7 linked regions of the Homo sapiens genome follow. The protein of the gene in region 3 interacts with the protein of the main gene of each other region in a pairwise test. Each region holds a gene or a part of one and is shown on either strand. Other genes may lie near its edges. The genes, in order: SLC35H1, GORAB, APOD, KCNJ6, EVI2B, SIGLECL1 and MGST3.

Evidence for each region.
Region 1: the proteins of APOD (region 3) and SLC35H1 interact in binary tests that used the Homo sapiens proteins (3 or more experiments, as listed by UniProt).
Region 2: the proteins of APOD (region 3) and GORAB interact in binary tests that used the Homo sapiens proteins (3 or more experiments, as listed by UniProt).
Region 4: the proteins of APOD (region 3) and KCNJ6 interact in binary tests that used the Homo sapiens proteins (3 or more experiments, as listed by UniProt).
Region 5: the proteins of APOD (region 3) and EVI2B interact in binary tests that used the Homo sapiens proteins (3 or more experiments, as listed by UniProt).
Region 6: the proteins of APOD (region 3) and SIGLECL1 interact in binary tests that used the Homo sapiens proteins (3 or more experiments, as listed by UniProt).
Region 7: the proteins of APOD (region 3) and MGST3 interact in binary tests that used the Homo sapiens proteins (3 or more experiments, as listed by UniProt).

What each region holds. Positions count from the first base shown.
Region 1 is NC_000020.11:46,357,926-46,361,425, reverse strand, and holds part of SLC35H1 (solute carrier family 35 member C2), read left to right. Parts: intron 1-2,467; exon of another isoform or gene 2,468-2,662; 5' UTR 2,663-2,700; coding exon of another isoform or gene 2,701-2,735; 5' UTR 2,736-2,867; coding exon of another isoform or gene 2,868-2,919; coding exon 2,920-3,039; intron 3,040-3,500.
Region 2 is NC_000001.11:170,530,795-170,534,965, forward strand, and holds the start of GORAB (RAB6-interacting golgin), read left to right. Parts: upstream 1-1,371; 5' UTR 1,372-1,429; coding exon 1,430-1,490; intron 1,491-1,653; exon of another isoform or gene 1,654-1,815; intron 1,816-2,669; exon of another isoform or gene 2,670-2,857; intron 2,858-4,171.
Region 3 is NC_000003.12:195,568,205-195,571,072, reverse strand, and holds the end of APOD (apolipoprotein D precursor), read left to right. Parts: intron 1-1,937; coding exon 1,938-2,173; 3' UTR 2,174-2,368; downstream 2,369-2,868. UniProt on the Homo sapiens protein: APOD occurs in the macromolecular complex with lecithin-cholesterol acyltransferase. It is probably involved in the transport and binding of bilin. Appears to be able to transport a variety of ligands in a number of different contexts.
Region 4 is NC_000021.9:37,622,958-37,626,457, reverse strand, and holds part of KCNJ6 (G protein-activated inward rectifier potassium channel 2), read left to right. Parts: intron 1-973; coding exon 974-1,299; 3' UTR 1,300-3,500. UniProt on the Homo sapiens protein: Inward rectifier potassium channels are characterized by a greater tendency to allow potassium to flow into the cell rather than out of it.
Region 5 is NC_000017.11:31,304,055-31,307,554, forward strand, and holds part of EVI2B (protein EVI2B precursor), read right to left. Parts: intron 1,577-3,500; 5' UTR 1,556-1,576; coding exon 209-1,555; 3' UTR 1-208. UniProt on the Homo sapiens protein: Required for granulocyte differentiation and functionality of hematopoietic progenitor cells through the control of cell cycle progression and survival of hematopoietic progenitor cells.
Region 6 is NC_000019.10:51,261,080-51,264,579, forward strand, and holds part of SIGLECL1 (SIGLEC family-like protein 1), read left to right. Parts: intron 1-2,803; 5' UTR 2,804-2,993; coding exon 2,994-3,015; exon of another isoform or gene 3,016-3,098; intron 3,099-3,500.
Region 7 is NC_000001.11:165,637,734-165,641,233, forward strand, and holds part of MGST3 (glutathione S-transferase 3, mitochondrial), read left to right. Parts: intron 1-3,500. UniProt on the Homo sapiens protein: Displays both glutathione S-transferase and glutathione peroxidase activities toward oxyeicosanoids, as part of cellular detoxification as well as synthesis of bioactive metabolites.

The sequences.
Region 1 (3,500 bases), on a different chromosome or scaffold from region 3:
GAGACTCCTGCAGTCATTTGGGGAGAGGATGGTGGCTGAGATGGTAGTGGTGGAGTTCAGGACATGTGCTCATATTTGGGATATTTCTGAAGATAGAGCTGACGGTATTTATTGATTGAATGTGGGCTAAGGGGAAGAGAGGAATCAGATGAGCCTAAGGCTTTTGGCCTGAGCAACTAGGAGAGTAGTGGAGCCATTTGCTGGGATGGGAAGTAGGAAGAGGAGCAGGCTTGGATGAAATGGGGGTGTGGAAAACACGAGTCAGTTTCAGACACTCTAGATGTGAGTGAGATGCCTGATATTAGATATCTAAGGGAAGAAGAGGTTAGGTAGGCATTGGATATTCTTCTGGAGTTCACATGAATCAGAGCCGGGGCATATATTGGGAAGACATCAGCTTACAGAAGGCATTTGAAGGAATGAGAATGCATTAGGTCAGGTAGGAGTCTCAACTCATTGGATCTGACACCTCTTTTTTATTACAAATATTTTGTAACAGTCCCTTTTATTACCCTAAAATGAAACATATGATTAATAAAAACTGCCTACACATAATTTTTTAAAAATCAACAAATGCAGCCGGGCGCGGTGGCTCACGCCTGTAATCCCAGCACTTTGGGAGGCAAGGCGGGCGGATCACCTGAGGTTGGGAGTTCAAGACCAGCCTGACCAACATGGAGAAACCCCATCTCTACTAAAAATATAAAAAATTAGCCGGGTGTGGTGGTGCATGCCTGTAATCAGTCCCAGCTACTAGGGAGCCTGAGGCAGGAGAATCGCTTGAACCTGGGAGGCGGAGCTTGTGGTGAGCCGAGATTATACCATTGCACTCCAGCCTGGGCAACAGGAGCGAAACTTCGTCTCAAAAAAAAAATAAAATAAAATATAAATAACCATGCCCTATAACATAAAAGGAAAGTAATTGATAGTAAAACAAAATATGTTTCAATATGTAAGTTTCTGGGCACAATAGTGCTGGAAGTTGCAGTGAAGCTGTCCCTTCTGTGTGGACCCTCTAGGAGTGTGATGGCCACAGACACAGACTGACACAGCCGTGTTGTGTCGCACCTCGAAAACCACTAGTGCCATTGCTGTAGATGATGTGGTTTTTCCAGAATGGACACTTTTGGTGCCATTTTGAGACCAATTTTGACCATTTTCAGTCTCCCTTCATTGTACATAGGCGTCTTATTCTTGGAAGTGTTAGTTCACAGCAGAACCATGGAAACACTGCACTGTGTTTACATGTAAACAGAGTTACATTCTAGGTTCAGATAATTATAAGCTAATCTTTCACCTATATGGATGTCAAAGTCGTGCGGGATGCAGAGCAGTAATTGGCTATGTGGACTGCCCCTTCTTTATCCCTGCTTACTGAACGCCAGGAGCATATCCCCAAAATACCGCCACAGGTTTCCAAAGCTCCTCTGAAGACAACTGTAGCCCCAGAGATTCATTTGGACACAGCCAGCTCCCTGTTTGCCCCGGGGAGGGGAAATAGTAACAAGAGTTCCAGAGTGCAGAATGGAATGTAACTGCTCCCTTCAGAAATGTTGGGGTGGGAGATGGAGAATGTGTCTGATCGTGAAGCCTAGGAAGGCTTCGAGAAGAAGGTGGCGTTTCAATAGGATGGGAATGTCTCAAAGGAGGATCTGTGGTTGAGGGGGGCACCCAGATGAAGCAGCAGGTATCATCACATAACACTGGACCTGAGGCTCCTCCAGGCACAGACAGGTCTACCCGGCATGCTCCGGGCACTCATCAGGGTTGGCTGGATTGACAGGGAGGCTGGGAGTGGTTTCATTTGGCAATACCGTAAGGCAGGCTCTGCTTCCAGGGAGTAGTGGTTACAGCCTGGTCTTACAGTGTTCCAGCCGTTAGAGTGTTGGTTTCCTTCTCCATTTTTAACCCCTAAAGACCAGACCAGTCCCCTGAAAATCGCATGCCTGCTCTCTGTCAGTCATCAAACCAGACGGAGAACTTAAAGTACACCAGCTGTGCGTAAGGCCAGTGTGGTCTTACTGGTCCCTATCTTTGTGCCGCTCGTAGCCTCTCAGGGGACAGACATTACTCAAATCACACCCTGCACAAGTGCTATGAAAGAGAAGTAGGAGAGCCGTGAAAGCAACATGTATCTCAGGGGACTGATTCAGGGGATGGGGTGGGGTTCCCTGAAGAAGTGACCTCTGAGCTGAAGATAGGTAGGATTGATGAAGGACTGAAGGGTGGGTGCAGTGTTCGTTCATTTCCTTCAGACAACGGGAAGAAAGCTGGTGTGTTTGGGGAGCTGAAAGGCGCCCAGTGGGGCCAGGTCCTGGAGAGCCTGTGGCTGAGACTGGGAAGACCAGCAGGGCCAGATGAGGCCATGGGAGCCGAAAGAAGGGTGCTGGTCTTTATCAGAAAAGCACTGGAAGCTGCTGAAGGGTTTTAAGCAGTGGCCTGACATGATCAGTTTGTGTTTTAAAAGGTCACTTTGGTGGCAGTTCATGGAGAATAGCTTGAGGTGACAAGACAGCAGACACGACGTGGGTCTCTGGGACTGCCTGTGCCGTTGTGGGCAGCCCCTCCAGAGCCCTGAGTCACGCAGCCTTCAGAGGCACCCATGGCTACGAGAAGCACAGTCTCTGCCTGAGGCTCCAGAGCGGCCCTTTTTCCCCAGCAGCAGACCTTGGGACCTGTGAGCGCTGCATCCAATTAACCATGGGAAGGGTCAGCACCAGCCACCAGCCCCTTAGGTGAGGACTCTGCCTGGGGCTCTGCTGATGGTTCCGAATCATGGAGCTGCAGAGAGCTCCTCCAGCCTGGAGACGTTCTTGGTGAAAGCTGTGGTCTAACTCCACCGGCTCTTCCTGCACATTGTATTCAAGAGGGGTGCCTGCCCCCGCTGACTCAGGAGCTCCGGTGCTGCAGCCGCCACGAATGGGGAGGTGGGCCCTCGATGTGGCCTTTTTGTGGAAGGCGGTGTTGACCCTGGGGCTGGTGCTTCTCTACTACTGCTTCTCCATCGGCATCACCTTCTACAACAAGTGGCTGACAAAGGTACCAGGAGGCCTTGCTGGGGCGGGGTGCTGGGATGAAGGTGGCCAGAGCCATGGCTACGGTGCCCTTCATGTTTAACAGGAAGGCACAAGCTTCAACCAGTCTAACTGGAAGCCAGTCACGGCTGGGCTGGAACAGGGCCCTCCAAGCCTGCCGTGCCAGGGTTCCCCTTCAGTGTTTGGATCCAGGGAAACCAAGGAGAGCGGGGGGTGTGAAGGGATGAGCTGGGGAAACTGGGGCTCAAGCAGCAGCTATTTACCCCACTAGAGAAGTATTTCAATATTTTAATAAGTGATACAACGTAGTGGGCCGCAGTGGCTCTCACTTGGGCATAGGCCGTGAGGAAGGCTGGGCAGGTAGCTCACAGGTGTGTTGAAATGGTGGAGACAGCACCAGGCTAGGATTGAGTCTCTTGGCTGCCACCTGTCTTCGTGACCTAAGAGTCTGTCATTCCAAGCGAT
Region 2 (4,171 bases), on a different chromosome or scaffold from region 3:
CATTTCAACTTTTCTTGACGTGTTTTATTTTGTACTTTACTCCTTTCTTTCATTTTGTTTAAAAATATCAACACACTAAAGCCAAAGTATTTTAAAATGTAAGCCAAGATGAGGTGTTTTGTTGTTCTTACTGCAAAAATAGTGAAAGAGAACCATGAAAAATAGTATAACTAGGTCTCTCTTGAATCATCCTTATCTATGTGTATTTTGACAACGCTTGCATCTTTTAATCTTTGCAACCATATTTCAAATGAGGAAATGGGATCTCAGGTTAGTGTTCAAGGCAGAACCCGAATTACGGTATTAGGATTCCAGGCAGGATCCTAAGAAATGCTTTCCCATCCCCCAGCACCGACGTTTTACAATGTCTTCTCTGAAAAACAGATTTAAAGGGGAGACTAAGAAATCCCGGCCGGGCGCAGTGGCTCACGCTTGTAATCCCAACACTTTGGAAGCCCGAGGCGGGCGGATACCCTAAGGTCAGGAGTTCGAGACCAGCCTGGCTAACATGGTGAAACCCCGTGTCTACTAAAAATACAGAAAATTAGCCGGGTGTGGTGGCCGGCGCCTGTAATCCCAGCTACTCGGGAGGCTGAGGCGGGAGAATCGCTTGAACCCGGGAGGCGGAGGTTGCAGTGAGCCGAGATCGTGCTATTGCACTCCAGCTTGTGCAACAAGAGCGAAACTATGTCTCAAAAAAAAAAAAAAAAAAAAGTAAGAAAAAAAGAAAAAGAAATCCCTTAAGAGGAAAGTTACATATTATAATTATTCACAAAGGAAACAACCCAAAGCAAAAGAAATCTGAGAGCCGCTCCGGCCTGCGAGAGACCTGGTTATGCCTGTTCCCTTTTCATCAATTATACCCCACCCCTTTTAAATGTTTCTTCATCATCAAAATCCTAAATCTGATCATTTCCTGAGTTAATCTGAAGGAGGCCTCCAGCGCTGTGCACACTCCCAGCAAAACACAAGGATTTTAGGGCACACTAAGAGCCACAGAGAGCACCGCTCCCGCCCCACAGGTACAGGACCCCAAAGGCACTTAGATCTCCCGTTTCCGCCACCGACTTGTTGCTCCTTCCCAAATACCTGTTTATCTCCACCCTTATCCCCATCGCCATTTCCCCCCTTAGCTCCTGAAGCGATTAACCAGCAACAGTGAGAAACAATGAGAGAGAGAGAGAGTAGAGGTAAGCCAGAGGAAACGAATGTCTGCGTGGCAAGGTTTCCTTAGGCAGTTTGTCAGGCACTGCTGAAGGCAGCCTGGAAGGAAGCCGGACCCTGAGGCCGGGGAGAGAGGGCCTTGTGTTTGGAGCCCGATGCACTGATTGGCCGCGGCCGGGGAAAAACCCGGATGAGCTGGGCAGCAGTGTTGGCAGTCGCGGCTGCGAGATTTGGGCACTTTTGGGGGTGCCGGTGGCCCGGGCCGATGGCGCAAGGTTGGGCAGGATTCTCTGAGGAGGAACTGAGGAGACTAAAGCAGACTAAAGGTTACAAGATGGGTTTACAGTGGTTTAATTCTTGGGTCTTAAGGGGAAGAGGCGGGGATGCAGCTTTGGCGGGGAAAGGGGGCGTGGAAGCGGCTACGTTTGTGTTAGCGGAAGGCGCTGTAAGTACGTGGACTGGATTAGGGGGTTTCAGAGGAGGACTTACTGGGAGTCACGACGGGAGGGGCAAGCCAGAGGACTGGGATCTTCTTTTAGAAAAAACGGTCCAGGAATCCACTGTAGGGATTTGACTCTTGTGAAAGGAATGGGACTTGGGAGAGGAAGTGAGCCTACAGCCGGGGTGTCTCCCTTAGGGAAGATTGCTGCAGGAATCAACGGTTGGAAGGTTAGGGTCAGGGTAAGGGAAGGAGGAGGGGCGCACACCGTATTAGAATTGTGATGAATTTATAGAAGCAGATGGTTGGAAAAAAGGAGCACAGGCGTCTGAATAAAGGCAAAAATTCGGTACTTTTCACAATTCATCTGGAGTGTTGCATTCACTTCTGGTTGCCAGATGATTTTTGCAGTACTTCCCAATTTTTGAGAATCAGCAAACCAAAAGGGTCTTTGAGAGGGTAGATGTGAAGACTTTATATGTTTATATACATACAGTCTTACTGACTTTGGAGTAAGCTAACCTTGTGCTTCTCTCTCTGGCTTTATAGAGTAATCATTGAATGGGCTTGTACAATTTTTTTGTTGTTGTGGAAGGAATTAAGTTTGCTGATTGTTGGTGGAAAACTTAGTAATATTAATTGCACTTTGCTTGTGGTTGAAATTTCGCAGTGATCTGTATGGTTATCGTGGTAGTACACACAATTTCTGTAAGAAGTGTACATCACTCTTGGTACCTTAATTCAAATACTTTATTTTGGTAGCAAATGAAGTAAACCTTTTGTTAGCGTTTGTGGGGAAATTGGATGTTGCTCTGGTAGCTTGTGCATTTTTAGCATAAATATGAGAATAATCTAGGGCAGACAAGTGGGAAAAGAAGTAAATTAGTAAGATAGGGCCAATGTAGATTATATCGACTGGGGACATTTTGACTGGTCCAGGGGACTTTAAAAACTCTATCATAAAGGTTAGGCTAAGCTATGTAGTTAACTGACTCTGTGTTGCTTGATATACTCAAATTCTTTTGCTTTGTGTTTTCAACATCCATTCACATACTTTGATATACAGGGTACAAGTGCCCTGGCCTCTGGTCTGACTCCAGTAGACTCATGAGGAGACAAACCACAAAGTTATGTGATAGTAGATATTGCAAGAACTTGCTTCAGAGACAAGAGGAACCTCACTCTGCCGGGGATTGGATGGAGCTTGGGAAGATTTCACAAAGTTTGTGTGTTAGCAGAGGCGCATTTTCCAGGGTAAAGATGACTTAATATAAAAATCTAAATTAAACAACATATTCATTATGTAGAAGTATATTTTGAAATATCTTTGCAACCGGGGGTAGATAGAGGATGGTGAGGACCTGAACTTCAAGGCCCACTGTAGTGTGGAAACCAAATCGCTAGTCCGTGACCACCTCGAGGACGGAAAATATCTTAACCTCCTTGTATACCCGTAGCTAAACACAGTGATTGGCATATAGAACTTCCAGCTCTTCCTCTAAATCTTTTCTCCTTGGATTCCTTATTTGTAAAATTAGAGGATTTGGCCCTTTAATTTTAAAGCCATTTCTAGCTGTTCTCTATCTTTAAAAATTTATTGAATAATTTAGGAAGATGGAGTTGGTTGCCAGGAAAAATAAGGACAGTAGTACTCTGGAGACCCCTGTATGGGCATTGAGGAACATAGTCAAGAAAGTTGTTAATAGTCTTGTTTATAATATTAAGAAGTTGGAAACAACCAAAGTGTCCATTAACAAGGGAATGGATAAATAAATTGTGGTATACTCATCTAGCGGGCTACTGTACAGCTGGTGGGAATATATTAGTATTAACTGTAGCCACATGCATTAAAATGTTTGTTAATACAGTATATGTAGTTACACTTGGCCCTTGAACAACACAAGTTTGAACTGTGATGGTTCACTTATACACAAATGTGCATTTAAAAAATACAGTATTTGGGGGATGCAAAACCTGAGTATATGGAGGGCCAACTTTTGGTGTATGTGGTCTTCACAGCGCCAACTGTGGGACTTGAGTATGCACAGATTTTGGTATACATGGGGATCCTGGAACCAATTATCCTCATATACCAAGGATCAGCTAGCTGTATATATAATATATACAGTCACGCACTCAATAACAGTATTTCAGTTAGCAGCGGACCACATATATGGTGATGGTCTGGTAATATTATAATACCCTGTTTTTACTATGCTTTTTCTATGTTTAGATACACAAATACCGTTGTTACAGTTGCCTACAGTCTTCAGTATAGTGACATACTGTACAGGTTTGGAGCTTAGGAGCAAAAGGCTGTACCATATAGCCTAAGTATATAGTAGGCTGTACCATCTAGGTTTGTGTAAATACACTCTCTGATGTTTGCGCAAGGACAAAATTGCCTTACAACACATTTCTTAGAATGTATCCCTTTGTTAAGTGACGTATGATTGTATATAGTGGGGAGGCGTGGGAATGTGATCAGGGAGAGGGAATTTCAGAGGTATTGGTATTTATGAAATCAGGTTAAGACAAGTTAAGCTAAAGTAACAAATAGCCCTAATA
Region 3 (2,868 bases):
TCACATCCCAGTGTGGATACTGACACGTGACCCCGCAATTTACTATAACTAGCTAGCGTTTCAACAGGTGAAACACAAGTAGGTGCACACCGGGTGTGGGCTGCAGAAGACACAACCCAGTCTTGTTTCCCAAAGGAAACTGGGGCCCGAAACATTAGCAGATATTAGCAGAACAACCTGCACGGCGCAGAAACTAGGAAGCAAGAGATGACAAGAGTGACGGCAAGTTTGAATCCTGCTTCTGCCACTTTCCAGTCACATTGTTGGGGATCCTGTGAGATACCTAATGACAGGCATTTGCCTCTGGGTTCTGAGCTAACTGAGGAAGGGACACAGGCAATAGAGAAAGCACCAAATATTAGTTTTATTTCCGACGAAGATACACTAGAGAGTTCAACCCAGAACTGTGAGGCTTTCTAACACGAAGAGTGCTTGAAAGCCCCTTTCCCACCTGCAGGGTAGACACTGAAGTCATCAGCTACAAAAGTTACTCCCTGCACTTCCTACTTCTCATCTCTGCCACTCCTCCACCCCACACCAGTCAAGTGCCTAGAGCGGGGAGGAGAGGAAGTTCTAATTTTATAGACCAAGAAAGGAATGCTGGGAGGAGAAAACAGTTCTTCTCACACTATGAATATGGACAACTAACTTCACATGTACAAGCCAGAAATAACTGCCCAGTGTCGTGAAAATAAACCAGATACACACGCTCTGTAAACTGTAAAGGGCTTTATACACAGTTTCTCTTGTTATTTTTATCAAGAAGGGAGCTAAAGTGCAGGTGGGCTGAGTGACGCAGGCCATCACTGAACTCATTAGAAGTAGAGTTGGGACCTAAACCTAGGTCTCCAAACTCTCAACTGAGTATTTTTCCCATAGGGATCAGGGACGGGGATTGGAGTGAAAGCTAACTATTACATGCATAACAAGGATTAGATGTTTGCGTTAGGCCTTGTAGGATTATGGGAGATTATGGAAAAGGATTTCCAAGTGAAGGGAACTGGAACATAGAAGAAGGCCTGAATACAGGCATATCACGAAGTCAGGAGTTCAAGACCAGCCTGGCCGACATGGTGAAACCCTGTCTCTACTAAAGATACAAAAAATTAGCTGGGCATGGTGGCGTGTGCCTGTAATCCCAGCTACTCAGGATGCTGAGGCAGGAGAATCGCTTGAACCCAGGAGGTGGAGGTTGCAGTGAGCTGAGATCGCGCCATTGCACTCCAGCCTGGGCGACAAGAGTGAAACTCCATCTCAAAAAAAAAAAAAAAAAAAAAAAAAAAAAACGAAGAAGAAGAAGGCCTGAATAAAGAGGCCTAGAGCCTGGGAGTGTACATGAAGAGGGGCATGAGGTTAGGAAGGGCCTTGAATGCCACATTAAAAGGCTTGAAGTTTCTTCCATAAACAATAGGAGACTGTCAAAGTTTTCAAATAAGGAGAGACATGTGAAGTTTTCTGTATTGTATCTGGGTAAATTTATTCTTCGGAACTGGACCACGAGAGGAAGGCAGAATGTGCCAGCCTGGGTGAGTGCAGGTGGGCCATGATGCCGCTGCTGGCAGAGGTGGGAGACAGATTTTTGCAAAATCACTCTGGGCTTAAGAGTTCTCAGTCCACCTGGGAATACACAGAGCAGCTGAAATGTGCAGATGGGTGATGACTATAACGCTGTCTCTCTCTCTCTCTCTGTCTCTCTCTCTGGGTGAGTGAGGCAGGCAGGCAGGCAGGGCACCAACAGTGCTAGAAAGGGTAAGTCAGAAACACTCAGTCTAGGCTTTCGTCCAAACTTCTTTCCAGGGTCTTTCTGTTTCTGGATTGATAAACAAAATCAGAGGTGGGGGGCTTGGTGGGTGGTTGTCTGGGCCAGCCTTCTTGTGTTGTCCTGAGATTTCTCTTGCCCTCTCCCTCCAATAATGCTGCCTCTCTCTGGTTCTCAGTTATGCCATCGGCACCGTACTGGATCCTGGCCACCGACTATGAGAACTATGCCCTCGTGTATTCCTGTACCTGCATCATCCAACTTTTTCACGTGGATTTTGCTTGGATCTTGGCAAGAAACCCTAATCTCCCTCCAGAAACAGTGGACTCTCTAAAAAATATCCTGACTTCTAATAACATTGATGTCAAGAAAATGACGGTCACAGACCAGGTGAACTGCCCCAAGCTCTCGTAACCAGGTTCTACAGGGAGGCTGCACCCACTCCATGTTACTTCTGCTTCGCTTTCCCCTACCCCCCCCCCATAAAGACAAACCAATCAACCACGACAAAGGAAGTTGACCTGAACATGTAACCATGCCCTACCCTGTTACCTTGCTAGCTGCAAAATAAACTTGTTGCTGACCTGCTGTGCTCGCAGTAGATTCCAAGTTGGATTAATTATTGTGGGTTTTTCATTATAAGCTTATGCTTAGAAATCCTTAAACAGGCTGGTTGTGGTGCCTCATGCCTGTAATCCCAGCACTTTGGGAGGCTGAGGCAGGAGGATCACCTGAGGCCGGGAGTTCAAGACCAGTCTGGGCAACATAGCAAGACCTCATCTCTACAAAAATGTTTTTAAAATTAGCTGGGTATGGTGGTGCACACCCGTGCTAGCTACTCAGGAGGTGGTGGCAGGAGGATGACTTGAGCCCAAGAATTCGAGGGTACAGTGAGCTATGATGGCACCACTGCACTCCAGCCTGGGCAACAGAGCAAGACCCTGCCTCTAAAAAGAAAAACAGAAAAAAAAATCCTTAAGCAGTTATGTTGAAAAAAACCAAGCACTGAATTGTCCTCATTTAAAGGTAACAATCCTGTTTCTGGAGTGGGGGAAGCTGATGGCAAAGGCGTATTCTGGGTGACCTGAATCCAGATGCCCCCGTTCTGG
Region 4 (3,500 bases), on a different chromosome or scaffold from region 3:
TTATCTTTAAGAAAAGGGAAAAGTGGCCAGGAGCAGTGGCTCACGCCTGTAATCCCAACACTTTGGGAGGCTGAGGCAGGCGGATTGCCTGAGCTCAGGAGTTCATAAACAGCCTGGGCAACACGATGAAACTCCGTCTCTACTAAAATACAAAAAAAAATTAGTCGGACATGGCGGTGTGCACCTGTAGTCCCAGCTGCTCAGAAGTCTGAGACAGGAGAATTGCTTGAATCCTGAAGGTGGAGGTCGCAGTGAGCCGAGATCGCACCACTGCACTCCAGCCTGGGCGACACAGCGAGACTCCATCTCAAAGAAAAAAAAAAAAAAGAAGGGGGAAAAGCTTTTAAAGTAGTTATGATTGCACAGTCTGAGCAACTATGACCACTGGGCCTAAGTAAAGTGCAAATTCAGGTGGGTGACCCTTCCAACTGCATCTGGAGCCACAGTCATGGCCTGTGTGTTAATGGCAGGTGGGAGGGTAACACTGATCTGTGGCCTCTAGCTTAAAAGCAGCCTAAGTGTAGTTCCATATATGAAATTTCATTCTAAGTCTGTGGCCAAAGAGCTCAAATCCCATTAGAACCCAGGCTAAACCTCCAAGAGCAGTAGGAGGCCAGAGTCATGGCTTCAGGGTTCTCCCAGAGCAGAGTGGACCAGACATAGCCATGCACATGCGAAAACTTGTGTGCATTTGCACACTTGATTTCCTTTGCATGTGCATGGCCATGCAGGCAAATGTGGCTTGATGTGGGCCAGGACTCTCTCATTGTTCCCCAGGACTCCCTTAAGAGGCCTGGAATCTCCATGGCACATTAGCATGTGTCTACAACATGAATGACACCTACTAAGTGTGGCATCGTATGCAGGTCAGTCTCAACAGCTGCATGCAGTACTCCTCCTGGCTCTCTGTGACTCCTTGGCCATGGAAAGCCCACACTTACATATGCTAAAGCCTCCATTCTTCTCTCTGCAGGGATGACATGCCAAGCTCGAAGCTCCTACATCACCAGTGAGATCCTGTGGGGTTACCGGTTCACACCTGTCCTGACCCTGGAGGACGGGTTCTACGAAGTTGACTACAACAGCTTCCATGAGACCTATGAGACCAGCACCCCATCCCTTAGTGCCAAAGAGCTGGCCGAGTTAGCCAGCAGGGCAGAGCTGCCCCTGAGTTGGTCTGTATCCAGCAAACTCAACCAACATGCAGAACTGGAGACTGAAGAGGAAGAAAAGAACCTCGAAGAGCAAACAGAAAGAAATGGTGATGTGGCAAACCTGGAGAATGAATCCAAAGTTTAGTGCCCTAGCTGGGCAAACCCTTCTCTTCTCCCCCCAACACAATCTTTCCTTGTCTCTCATTCTCTTTCTTTTTCTGTCTCTCTTGCTTTGTTCTTTATTTGTTTATATTTAATTTTTACATGACCAGAAAACAAATCTTCAAGGTGTAAAATATCTACCTGCCCTCTCTCAGTTATTCAGATTGACAAGGTAGACATGGATTTGATGAAAGTGCAAAGTGCCCTCATTTGTGGCCCAAGCCTGGTCTCCTCCCAAAATACTACACATCCAACTCCTGGAGATTTCAGTTACTTACCTGCATGTGTTGTACAATACCAGATCACTCAAAAAGGTGTGTCAAAGATTTTACCTGGGATATGACAAGCAAGGTTTCTGGTGCCTATTTATTCATTCAGTGAGACACAGAGTGGAGCCCTCAGTTTTATGGATCCCAATTCATTTCATCTACTACAGGGTGAGGTGCTTGCCCCCATGTGGGTGTGGCAGTTACAGGGCCCAGGTGAGCTGAAGACAAACCACTGTACATATATATGCCTTATGTAATTATTTTCTTTTTGTAATTAGTAATAAAACCCAGCATGTACAAAAGTACCATAGAACAGAACTGCTAAATACTGTACATAGATGTATCATTAATGTAGGTTTAGATATATAACTTTAGAAATAAGAAGCAAAAAAAAAAAGAAAGAAAGAAAGATTCCTAACATGCAGTAGGCATTTCTGTTTTGATGTCTGTGTTTTCCAGGTTATTTTGATCCAGTTGACGGCTGGCCCTTCAGTGCATGGCCTTTGTTTGTGTCTCAGACTGGCAGACGTTAGGGTACCTCACTGTTCCCACACGGATCCTTTCATTGAATCCAACAAGCCATAGGTCTGGGGGAAATTGAGAGGTCTGGTAGATGGCAAAACCCACCACCAATATGCTGATATACTGTGAAATGTTACAAAACAGATGTCTTTTTTTAAAAGATAACAAGGGCCTCACTAACTGGCCTGGAGGAGGGGGAATACCAGGAAGGAAATATTCTCTAGCCTGTCACCAAAGGTATGTTTTTACTTTTCACATGAGCTCTTGCCCTTTGTAGTACAATAATTTAGGAAACTTTTCTGCAAAACCATTGATTCTCCAGCTGTAGTTTCTCTACACTCTTACAATGAGACATGGTAAGTTAGCAGAAGATGGTTTGGGTCTAAAGCCGTGAAATTCACAAAGGCATGTAGTGAGTGGCATGCATTATAATCATCGACCTCTCACTTTGACTCTATCTGGCTTTCTGAGAATGACATCTCGCCTGTCCCTGGGGCTTATCCATCAGCATTTCTTGCATTGTGATCTTTTATTATTTTGAAATGACCAGAGTTCAGTATTCAAAGATTAGATCAACAATCTTGATGATTGTCTAAGAAATGTCTCTAGAGTATGCCACAGGCTAGAAATCAAATCCAGTGTCTGTCAATCAAAAGAAAACAAATAAAAAAATTCCAGCCTTAATTCACTTTAATCTGCAAAAAGGAAAGAAGGGAGGAAGGGAGGGAGGAAGGAAGGAAGGAAGGAAGGGTATTTGTACTGGAAATCTGAATTTTAAAATGAAAAAAATAAGGAAACAAATCTTAGATCAAACCTCCGGGGCAGGTGGAGATTTTGCACTGTTACAGATCTTTCACATTCACTTTGCATTTATAAGCTGTTTGTTCTTTAACACAGTTGCCCATCATAAATATTCATTGAATGGATCCAAGTTTATTTTCAGCTCCTACAGCTGTGCTCAGTTTGAGGCTCTGCACCATGGAGGTCAAAGAGATCAAACTAGCTGTCCCTCTTTGTTTCCCTTGCCTTCCCTGACCTGATCGCACAGGCCTTTGGTGTAGTCTGGGGACCTTGTCTACTAAAAAAGAAGTCCCAGGATAAGGAAAGTGGCTCCTAAATATAACCTCGGGGCCTCTCTTCTCCCATCTCAGAGACCTTGGATCAGGACAACTGCCTCTTGGCACTGACTTTAAGGAAAACAAAACTGTTGGCTATAGCCCTTTCCTGTTTGCCAGCATTTCCTTTTTTGCATTGAATCTCTGTTGAATCATTTCTTTATTTCGCACACTCTAAGAAGGAGGTGGTGGTCCGGGAGGAGGAAGCTCGATACACTCCCCTTGAGGCTGCGGGGAGGAGCCATGGCTTGACCTCTCTGCAGCCTAATGAAGGGCAC
Region 5 (3,500 bases), on a different chromosome or scaffold from region 3:
TAGGTACTATAATTAGTAAATAGATTACTGTTAAATAACTTTTTTTAAAAAAAAGTTTCATCTATGCACATAGGCTCTGAGCAGATTTCAGATAGTTCCTGAATAAAAATCAAAATTGACTATCAGTTGCCATTTTATATATGTTAACATATAAAGAAAAAAGAGTCATTTGAGGATGGAAGATCAGCTAAAAAGCAAGTTGTAATATTTATAACAGTTCTGCAGGTGGAGGTGGCAGGGATTCATTAAGATCTTGATCAGAGTTGGGAGGAATAGAGAACTCCTGACACTGGATCTCAAGGTTGGAATCTTCTTGGTTTTTCATAAAATCTACTGGTGGCAGGGGCAAGTTAAGTGAGTCAAGCGGTGGAAATGATTGTATTATCTCAGATTTATGATCTCCACAGTCTTGATTGAGACAGTCCAGAGATGGAGGGAGACTAGTAGAATCATTTGGAAGAGGAGATACAATTGTCATTGTGGGTTTGTCAGATTGGTTACTTTCCTGTCCTTCCAAATCCAGAAGGGGAGGTGGTGGAGGCAGATCTGCATCATCTGAAGAAGAAACAGCAGTTCCAACTGTTGAACCATCAGCACTATCTTCTGATGTACCATTTACTTGATCTTTTATTTTCTCTGTTTTGGGGTTGTTGGAGTCTTCAATGTTTTCACTTGATTCAAACAACTTAATTTCTAAGTCATCTGCTAAAAGTGTGCTTTTGCTTGGTTTCCAGGGTGTAAGTGAAATGATTGATGTACGTTTTGTGGATATTTCATTTTCTCTGATGTTATCCATACAAATGTCAGGGGTTTCTCCATCAGCAAATGGAGATCTACCTGCCCAATTTTGATCATTTAAAACTGGTTTCCTTAAGCATTTCCAAAGTACAATGATGATTATAGCTACCAACATAGAAGTCAGAAGTACACCAATTAGTATGGCAGCTATTGAATTATAATTGTTTTTTTGTGGGGTTTGTTTGTTACTGGTAGTATCTAAGATAAATCCTGGTGTACTCCTAGGTGAATTTTTGACAGTTGATGTTGGTTGTGTGGATGGATTATGAACAGTTATTTGTTTTCTAGAAGGGATCTGGACAGATGATGATTGTTGAGTAAAAGTATAGACAAATGACTTTGGTGGTTGTGTGGTAGAAGTACGGGCAGATGGTAGTTGTCTGGCAGAGGTGAACACGGCTTGCTGGGAGGAGGTGTTGGCTATTGGTGTTGGTTGTTTGGTGTTGTAGGCAAGTGGTTGTCCAGCAGAAGTATGTGCTTCTGGTTTTTCAGAAGAGGTATAGACAGCTGGTGTTGGTTGTCCAGCAGTGACTTTGGCAGGTGATATTGATTGTCCAGAAAAAGTGTCGCTGAATTGTGTTGGTTGACCCAAAGGATTCCCTGTTGTGTTTTGAGAATTAGCCAATACCTGTGACATTGATGATGTGAATAAGGTAGGCTGTGACTGCTTCTCTGTTGTAATTGTCTCTGTCTTTGAAAAAAATGTATTGTTCAGGTGTCCACAAAACAAAATTAAGATGAAATATTTGGGATCCATTTCAGAATATTTCCTCGTTATCTATAGCGGGTTTATAATGAAAGAGAAAGACAGTTAGGCGTCATTGGTGTCTAGTTAAAAATTTGACTTTTCATTATGATTCCTGGCATAAAGTAGGTAGACATTATTCCTAATTAGTAGTAGTTGATTAGTAGTTATTATTCCTAATTTAGACTTGATACACTGTAGGTTTGGTGTAACAACTCTTGGATATACTCTAACCCATCATACAGCATTTGGACCTCATAAGCAGTGATCTCTCTTCTTTTATTAATACAAGTTCTGTACTTGGCTCTGCTGCCCCTCTAGCTTCATTATATTTCAGTACTTCACTTAGTCATACTTCTCAAAACGCATAGGCTCTATATGCTGGATCCATGTGTTCTCTACCTTTTTTCACCATTTTCTACTAGAAATATATTGATTCTCCTGCCTTGAAGAACACCAGTGATCATCTGTTACCTAATCTAATTGTTCTTTATTTCTTCTCTCCCCTCCCCTCCTTGACCACATTAGACACTACTGTTCCTTCACTAATATTCAAGTAGCTTTTTGTAATCAGTCTTCCTTTCATGTTACTCTCACTAGCTCTTTTTCTTCTGCCTCCTAAATATGGTTAATTGATATTCTGTCCTCACCCTTACCTACTTTTCTTTGTTCCTGATTCTGTAAGATTTTAGTTCTCAGCTTTATGCCACAATTCCTAAACCTGTACCTCCAGCCTACATCTTCTTTGTCCTAATTCTATTTGTGTGACTTCTTGGTGGATTTTTCCATATTTTATATATATAGATAGATAGACATAGATATAGATATAAATATCTCCCACTATCAGCAAATTCAACATATTTAAAATGGAGTTCATCTTTACCCTCACAACTGACAACTGACTCTTCTCCCAACTTCTCTGTATCTGTTAATGGTACCACTAAGTTTCTTAGGCACAGAGTCTATTAGTAATCTTTGAAGCATCCTTAGTGTCTCTGTAGCGTGGTAGCCTTATGTTAATATTGCATATTTTTAAAGAATTTCATTCAACTCAGAGTCTTAGGCTTAAAATCCTAGAGTGATCTCTGAATCTGGTGGAGTAAATTCAATCCAGTTGGTCAAGTAGTCCTGCTGCTGCTTTCATTCATCTATTGGTAAATGCCACATTTGTGTGGAGCTCTGTTCTAGGTTTAGGAGATTAAAAAAAAAAAAAAAAGATAGTCACTGCCTTTAAGTGTTTCAGATTCTAGTGATAGAAGCAAACAGTAAAGGCCAGGCGTAGTGGCTCATTCCTGTAATCCCAGCACTTTGGGAAGCCAAGATGGGAGGATCGTTTGAGGCCAGGAGTTCAAGAACAGCATGGACCACATAGTAAGATCCCATCTCTAAATAAAAAGAAGAAAGAAAAAAAGCTAAAAAATAATTACAATAATTTTTTTTTTTTCAAGACAGTCTTACTCTGTCACCCAGGCTGGAGTGTAGTGGCACAATCTGGGCTCACTGCAAATTCCGCTTCCCAGGTTCAACTGATTCTCCTCTCTCAGCCTCCAAGTAGCTGGGATTACAGGTACACATCACCACGCCTGGCCTATTTTTGTATTTTTAGCACAGACGGGGTTTCACCGTGTTGGCCAGGCTGCTCGAGAACTGACCTCAGGTGATCTGCCTGCCTTGGCCTCCCAAAGTGCTGGGATTACAGGTGTGAGCCACCACGCCTGGCCCAATTACAATAATTTGATAAGCTTTCTCATAAAAGTATGCAGGAGATGTACAGAGAAGTTAACCTAGCCTGGAAAGGCTTCAGTGAAGTAAAGCTTGAACTGAATTTTAAAAGTCTATAAAAACTAATTAAGTTTCCAGCCAGGGAGAGCAACAATGTGGGCACAGGAAAATAAGGCACATATGAAAGTTTGGCAGATAGGGCTTTTTCTGGGATGTGGTAGATGCTAAAACTTGG
Region 6 (3,500 bases), on a different chromosome or scaffold from region 3:
TTTTTGGACTATGTTAGTAGGCAAACACAAATTTTAAATATATACTTTATTCCTGTTAATGTCAGCTTATCATTAGGAGATATGCCATTCTATCTTTGGTAATGCCTTTTGCTTAAAGTCTGCTTTATGGGATGTTAATGTAGGTATGTCTACATTACCTGGCTTTCTGGTTGGTATTTGCTTGGTGTATGTTTTCATTCTTTGGTTTTTTCTTTTTTTCTTTTTTTGAGACGGAGTCTTGCTCTGTCGCCCAGGCTGGAGTGCAGTGGCATGATCTCGGCTCACTGCAAGCTCTGCCTCCCAGGTTCATGCCATTCTCCTGCCTCGGCCTCCTGAGTAGCTGGGATTACAGGGGCCCGCCACCACACCCAGCTAATTTTTTGTATTTTTAGTAGAGACGGGGTTTCACCGTGTTAGCCAGGATGGTCTGGATCTCCTGACCTCGTGATCCGCCCGTCTCGGCCTCCCAAAGTGCTGGGATTACAGGCATGAGCCACCGCTCCCGGCCCATTTGGTTTTTTAACTGTCCTTTACACTTATGCTTTGGTTGTGTCTTTTGTAAACAGCATGGAGTTTGGCTTTGCTTCTTTTTTCCAATATGATGATCTTAGATTCATAACTGGATAATTTAAGCCATTTATATTTAGTTAAATCACTGATGTATTGGAGTTTAAATCTAACATCTAGGTACATGATTTCTACTTGTCCCAACCGTTCTATTCTCTTTTGTATCCCTTCTGTTTGTTTCTCTGTCTTTATTTTCAAACAAGCTTTTAAATCAAAGTACAATTTTATACAGAGAAGTATTAATACAGATAGTAAGTATACAACTCAAATTATCACAAAGGGAGCAGACCAGTGTAACCACCACTGAGGTCAAGAAATAGAACATTAACAACACCCCAAACACTCCACTCATGTACTACACCATTCATTACCCCCTTTATCCTTGCTATGTTCTGGATGCAAGCACGTTGTATGTGTTGCAAGTATGTTCTCCAGCCCTGCAACTTGCATTTGTCCTCCTTAATGGTATCTTTTGATGCAGAAATTAATTCTGATACAGTCCATTTTATCCATATTTCCTCATAGCTAGTGCTTTTTGGCCCTTTTAAAGAAATATTTCCTTACCTAAAACTTACCAAGATACTCTCCTATGTTGTATTAAAGAATTCCACTGACCAATGTGGTAGCTACTAACTACATATGGCTATTGAGCCCTTATATTATGGCTAGTCTGAATTGAAGTGTGCTGTAAGTGTAAAATATATACAAGATTTTGAAGAGTGTATAAAGAATGTACCAAATCTTAACAATTTTGTGTTGATTGCATGTTGAAATATTGGGTTAGGTTCAATATGAATAACCTAGTGAATAACCTAGGTTTCTTTCACTAGGTTAAATGAAACATCATTAAAATTAATTTTACCCATTTCTTCCTTTTTAATGTGGCTGCTAGAAAATTTAAAATTATACATGTAGTCCACATTTATAGGTCACATTATATTTCTTCACACAGCACTGTTCTAGAAAAAAAGTCTAAGGACTTTCCCAATGTCCCTAGAAGTTATTTTTATGTATGACATGAGGTAGGGGTCTTATTTCCTTTTGCTGTATGGCTGTCCAGTTATTCTGACACAATTTATTCAAAAGAGAGTCCTTTAACTTCTATGCAGTGCCATATTTATCCTAAACCAAGTGATCACATATGTATAGGTATTTTTCTAACCATATAGCCTGTCCCATTGGTATTTTTATTTATCCTTGTGTCAATACCATACTCTATGAATTACTATGTATGTATGTATGTATTTTATTTATTTACTTATTTATTTTGAGATAAAGTCTTACTCTGTAGCCCAAAGCTACAGTGCAGTGGCGTGATCACGGCTGACTGCAGCCTTGACCTCCCTACCTCAGGTGATCCTCCCACCTTAACCTTTCAAGTAGCTGGGACTACAGGTGCGTACCACCACACCCAGATAATTTTTGTATTTTTTGTAGAAACGGGGTTTTACCATGTTGCCCACGCTGGAATTACTATGGATTTTTAAGTCATGATATCCAGTAGGAATTGGAATTGATCATTTTTTTGAGACAGGGTCTCGTGCTGTCTCTTTTTTAATAGAAATTTACTGAGAACAAATTTATTAAATAAATGTCTACATGGGATATAAAAGGGAACATTGTGCCATGCTATACAATGTTACTTACACCATTCATTTCAAATTTTATGGCAAAACAATTATACTGTGGTAGGGAGATGTTGTTTTACACTTCTCACCAAACTAAACATTATCATATTTTTCCTGAGAGAATGTCAACACTTTGCTATCTTAAGTGATCACACCACTGCAATCCAGACTGGGTGACAGAGAGAGAGAAAGACCCTGTCTCAAAAACAAAAACAAACCGGGCATAGTGGCTTATGCCTGTAATCTCAGCTGTTTGGGAGGCCAAGGCGGGTCAGGTGTTTGAGACCAGCCTGGCCAACATGGTGAAACCTCATCTCTACTAAAACTACAAAAATTATTTGGCCATGGTGGTGAATACCTGTAATTCCAGCTACTCGGGAGGCTAAGGCAGAAGAGTCGCTTGAACATGGGAGATGGAGATTGCAGTGAGCCGAGATCGAGCCACTGCACTCCAGCCTGGGCGACAGAGTAAGATTCCATCTCAAAAAACAAAAATAAAACAAAGAATAAAGCAGACATGACACTGAGGCTTCACAGACAATCTTAGTTGCCTCCCTGTCCGTACGTGCTCATGAGCCTCTCATCCCATATAATTCCTGCTTCTCCAGGTGAACAGGCCTTCACGATGACCAGAGACAGAAGCCCCTGACTTGGCTAAAGATACTTCTGCTCTCCCCATCCCCACATCCTCTTTCAGTTACGCATCACCTCACTCCTTCTGAACCATATGGTTCTGATGTCAGAGCCAGTGTAGTAAAGAGCTTCTGCTGTTCCTGAGAACTGTTGCTGCTGGAAGTGATGCTTCCACTGCTACAGCTGGGTAAGTAAGGTGAGAAGCAGCACTGGAGGTGTGTTTGGAAGCCAAGACTCCAGGGCCTGGGTGTTGGCAGGGCAGAGGATGGGCTATGGAGGCATGGAGAAAGAGGACATATGGGCATAAGTACCAAATAATCAACATGAATTAGACAGCTTCTGTGTGTCAGATTTTGACAGGGCTGGTGTGTCTGAAGCAAATAGCAAATTGGGCAAGGGAGAGGGATGGAGAGTGTAGGTGCTATGAAGGCATGAGAGCACTAGGAGCTGTTTCAGACATTACTGGAAGCCCTGAAGTTAAGTTTTTCAGTGTTTCTGTGGGCACACTTTGCCAGGTGGAAAAGACAATTCAGAGGACAGCCATAGAGGGGTCCGTACATGAGAGTCCCCCGCAGATTCCTCAACAGCGCCCCGCAAGTGACTCAGGTGAAGAGACCGAGATCAGGAGCTACTGGTTAGGGGAAAATTACCCCTTTCTTCCAGTAACCTCAA
Region 7 (3,500 bases), on a different chromosome or scaffold from region 3:
TAGCCAGATGTCATAATGAACCCCTGTGTTGCTAACTCAAATGCTGGAATGGAGCATGTGTTTTAGGAGTTAGACCAACACTGCCTCATCTTAAGCCCAAGTCTGATCACTCCTAAACTGAAACTTTGCAAATGTGTGTGTTGTAGCTTACTTAAAACCCATTGGGTGTCTGCTAACTCTGGCTACACTGAAAAGTTTTTGCTATTCTACCACCCACGGACGTCAGAGCCCTGCTGCTTACCAGGGCATGTTAGTCTCCTAATCTACCCCTGAAAACCTACCATGGCCCGGGGCTTTTCTGCTACCCCCCACGTCCTATACCCTGCTTGCTTCAAAATACTGTTCCTAGTTTTCTTCCCCTAACTTGATAATGTACTCCAAAACAATCATGTTTGGCAAGTAATACACTGATAAATGTAAAAGTTACAAATAGAAGTGCTGCTGTGTTTTTAAAACATTATAGGGCCAGGAGCAGTGGTTCATGCCTCTTATCCCAGCACTTTGGGAGGCTGAGAGAGGCAAATTGCTTGAGCTCAGGAGTTCGAGACCAGCCTGGCCAACATAGCGAAACCCCGTCTGTACTAAAAATACAAAAAATTAGCTGGGCATGGTGGCACACACCTGTAATATCAGCTACTTTGAGGCAGAAGGATTGCTTGAGTCCAGAGGTCAAGCCTGCAGTGAGCCCTGATTGTGCCACTTCCACTCCAGCCCGGATGACAGAGGGGGACCCTGTCTCAAAACAAAAACAAAACAAAACAAAAACCCAGCCAGGTACGGTGGCTCACACCTGTAATCCCAGCACTTTCGGAGGCCAAGGAGGGTGGATCACTTGAGGTCAGGAGTTCAAGACCAGCCTGGCCAACATGGCGAAACCCTGTCTCTACTAAAATACAACAATTAGCTGGGCATGGTGGTGCATGTCTGTAATCTCAGCTACTTAGGAGGCTGAGGCAGGAGAATCACTTGAACCCAGGAGGTGGAGGTTGCAGTGAGCCAAGATCGTGCCACTGCACTCTGCCACTCACTCTAGCCTGTGGGACAGAGAGAGACTCCGTCTTAAAAAAAAAAAAAAACCCACATTCTAGAAATAATTAGGTTTCTAAAGTATTCTTAAAAGGGGCATCTGTGGAAACCAGCCACTAATAACATATTTAAAGGAGAGAGACTGAATGCTTCCCCCTAAGATGAGGAAAGAGGCAAGGATGTCGGCACTTGCCACTGGTATTCAACATTGCATTGCCCCTAACCAGGACAATCAGTCAAGAAAAAAAAATAAATAAAAGACATCCACATTGGAAAGGAAGAAGTAAAACTGTCTCTCTTTGCAGATGGTATGATCCTCTATGTAAAGTATTCCAACGATCGTGGATCTGTCTCTCCCTCCCCTATGCTCTTGGGCCCTGGCTCTGTTTCTCTCCTGGAGTAGAAGCCTGTGGTGCAGCAGGATTCAATTGCCTTCAATTGAACGTTGCAGAGGACTTTCCCCTCGGTGCTTCCCGTACTGGGGGAAGAGGTGATTTAACTTCTGAGTAAGGGACAAACCCAGTAGTGTGTTAGTAGCAAAAAGCATGGACACTGGCATCAGTCTGCCTGTATTCAGACACCAGCTGTGCACTCATCAGCTGTGGGACCTTAGGCAAATTGTTGAATTTCTCTTTGCCTCCATTTCCTCATCCATAGAATGGGGATAATAATAGTAACTATCATATGGGATTGTTGTAAGGATGGAAAGTGTTAAAATATCTAAACTCTGTTACAGTGCCTGCCATAAAAGAAGCACTCTAGGCCTGGCGCGGTGGCCCATGCTTGTAATCCCAGCACTTTGGGAGGCTGAGGCAGGTGGACTGCTTGAGGTCAGGAGTTCGAGACCAGCCTGGCCAACATGGCGAAACCCCATCTCTACTAAAAATACAAAAATTAGCTGGGTGTAGTGACATGTGCCTGTGATCCCAGCTACTCTGGAGGTTGAGGCATGAGAATTGCTTGAACCCGGGAGGCAGAGGCTGCAGTGAGCTGAGATAGCACCCCTACACTCCAGCCTTGGTGACAGAGCAAGACCCTGTCTCAAAACAAAACAAAACAAAAGAAGCACTCTATGGGACCAGGTCTTATAGTTAGGTATTATATATGTAGTAGTGATATTTTCAGTTTTGCTGTTTCTGCCAGATGGGATGAAAAATTCCATGAGAAGTTGGCTGGAAGTCCTACTGATTCATTAAATAGGCCTTTCATTTGAAGTCATGTTTCTAATCATTCAGAAGTTGAGGTATGCCTGATCCATGGTATTAGAAGGGATGATCCCAGAGAGGTCATTCTGTAGCATAATGAGCATTACTTTTGAAGGATGGAGAACCTAGAACTCTGACTCATTTGACTATGGGAAAATCTGATCTGGTGAGTGACCATGACCATGAAGTGAGATCTGGTAACCCAATGGTGGTCACAGGATAGAGACTCTGAAGATACTGAGCTGGCTTACACACTTGCTTTGTTGTCTCGAACCTCTGTTAAAGCTGAAAGAAGAAGTCAGTCTTCTGCTGGGCACACTGTTAGTGTGTAATTGTGAAGAGCTTAGCTGGAGCTTGCTCTTCACAACAGTCTCTGATCTCATCAGCCCCATTCTGTTTTCAGGGGTGGTACAGAAGGAGCACCTCAGGAGCCTCCAAAGATAGTAGTAGAATATAACCACCAAGACAAGACTGTGACTGTGGTTTTGAATCAGATAGAATCACCACCTCCTGCAAATTTTGTTTTTGCTCAGAACAGTGGTTCTTAAAATGTGGTCCTTGACCAACATCATCAGCATTACCTAGGAACTAGTTAGATATGATAATACTCAGGCCCCACCTAACATGACTGAACCAGAAACTCTGGGACTGAGGTATGTTTTAACAAACTCTCCAGGTGATTTTAATGCCACCAAAGTTTGAGAACCACTGATCTAGGATATAGAACAGCAGCATTCTACTGAGTTTCTGTCTTCATGCAAGTTGCTATAAAAAATATAAGCAAGGAGACACGCTCTCTGTCCTCAAAGAGCACATAGTCCATCTAGAGAGGTATACTATATTCAATGCCACACAAAGGAGGCCTTCCCAGCCGGGATCCTGATGCAACAGCCCTGCCCAGTCTCTATGCCATTGCCGTGTGTTTTCCCCAGAAGAGTTCCCATTCTTGGCCAGGTGCCTGTAATCCTAGCACTCTGGGAGGCTGAGGCAGGTGGATCACCTGAGGTCAGGAGTTCGAGACCAGCCTGGCCTACGTGGTGAAACCCCGTCTCTACTAAAAATACAAAAATGAGCCTGGTGTGATGGTGGGCACCTATAATCCCTGCTACTCGGGAGGCTGAGGAAGGAGAATCACTTGAACCCAGGGGGCGGAGGTTGCAGTGAGCCTAGATCGTGCCACTTCACTCTAGCCTGGGGGGAAGAGCAAAACTTTGTCTCAAAACAAAAAAAGAGTTCCCACTCCCTGAAGCTGTTTTTTGTTTGCATGTT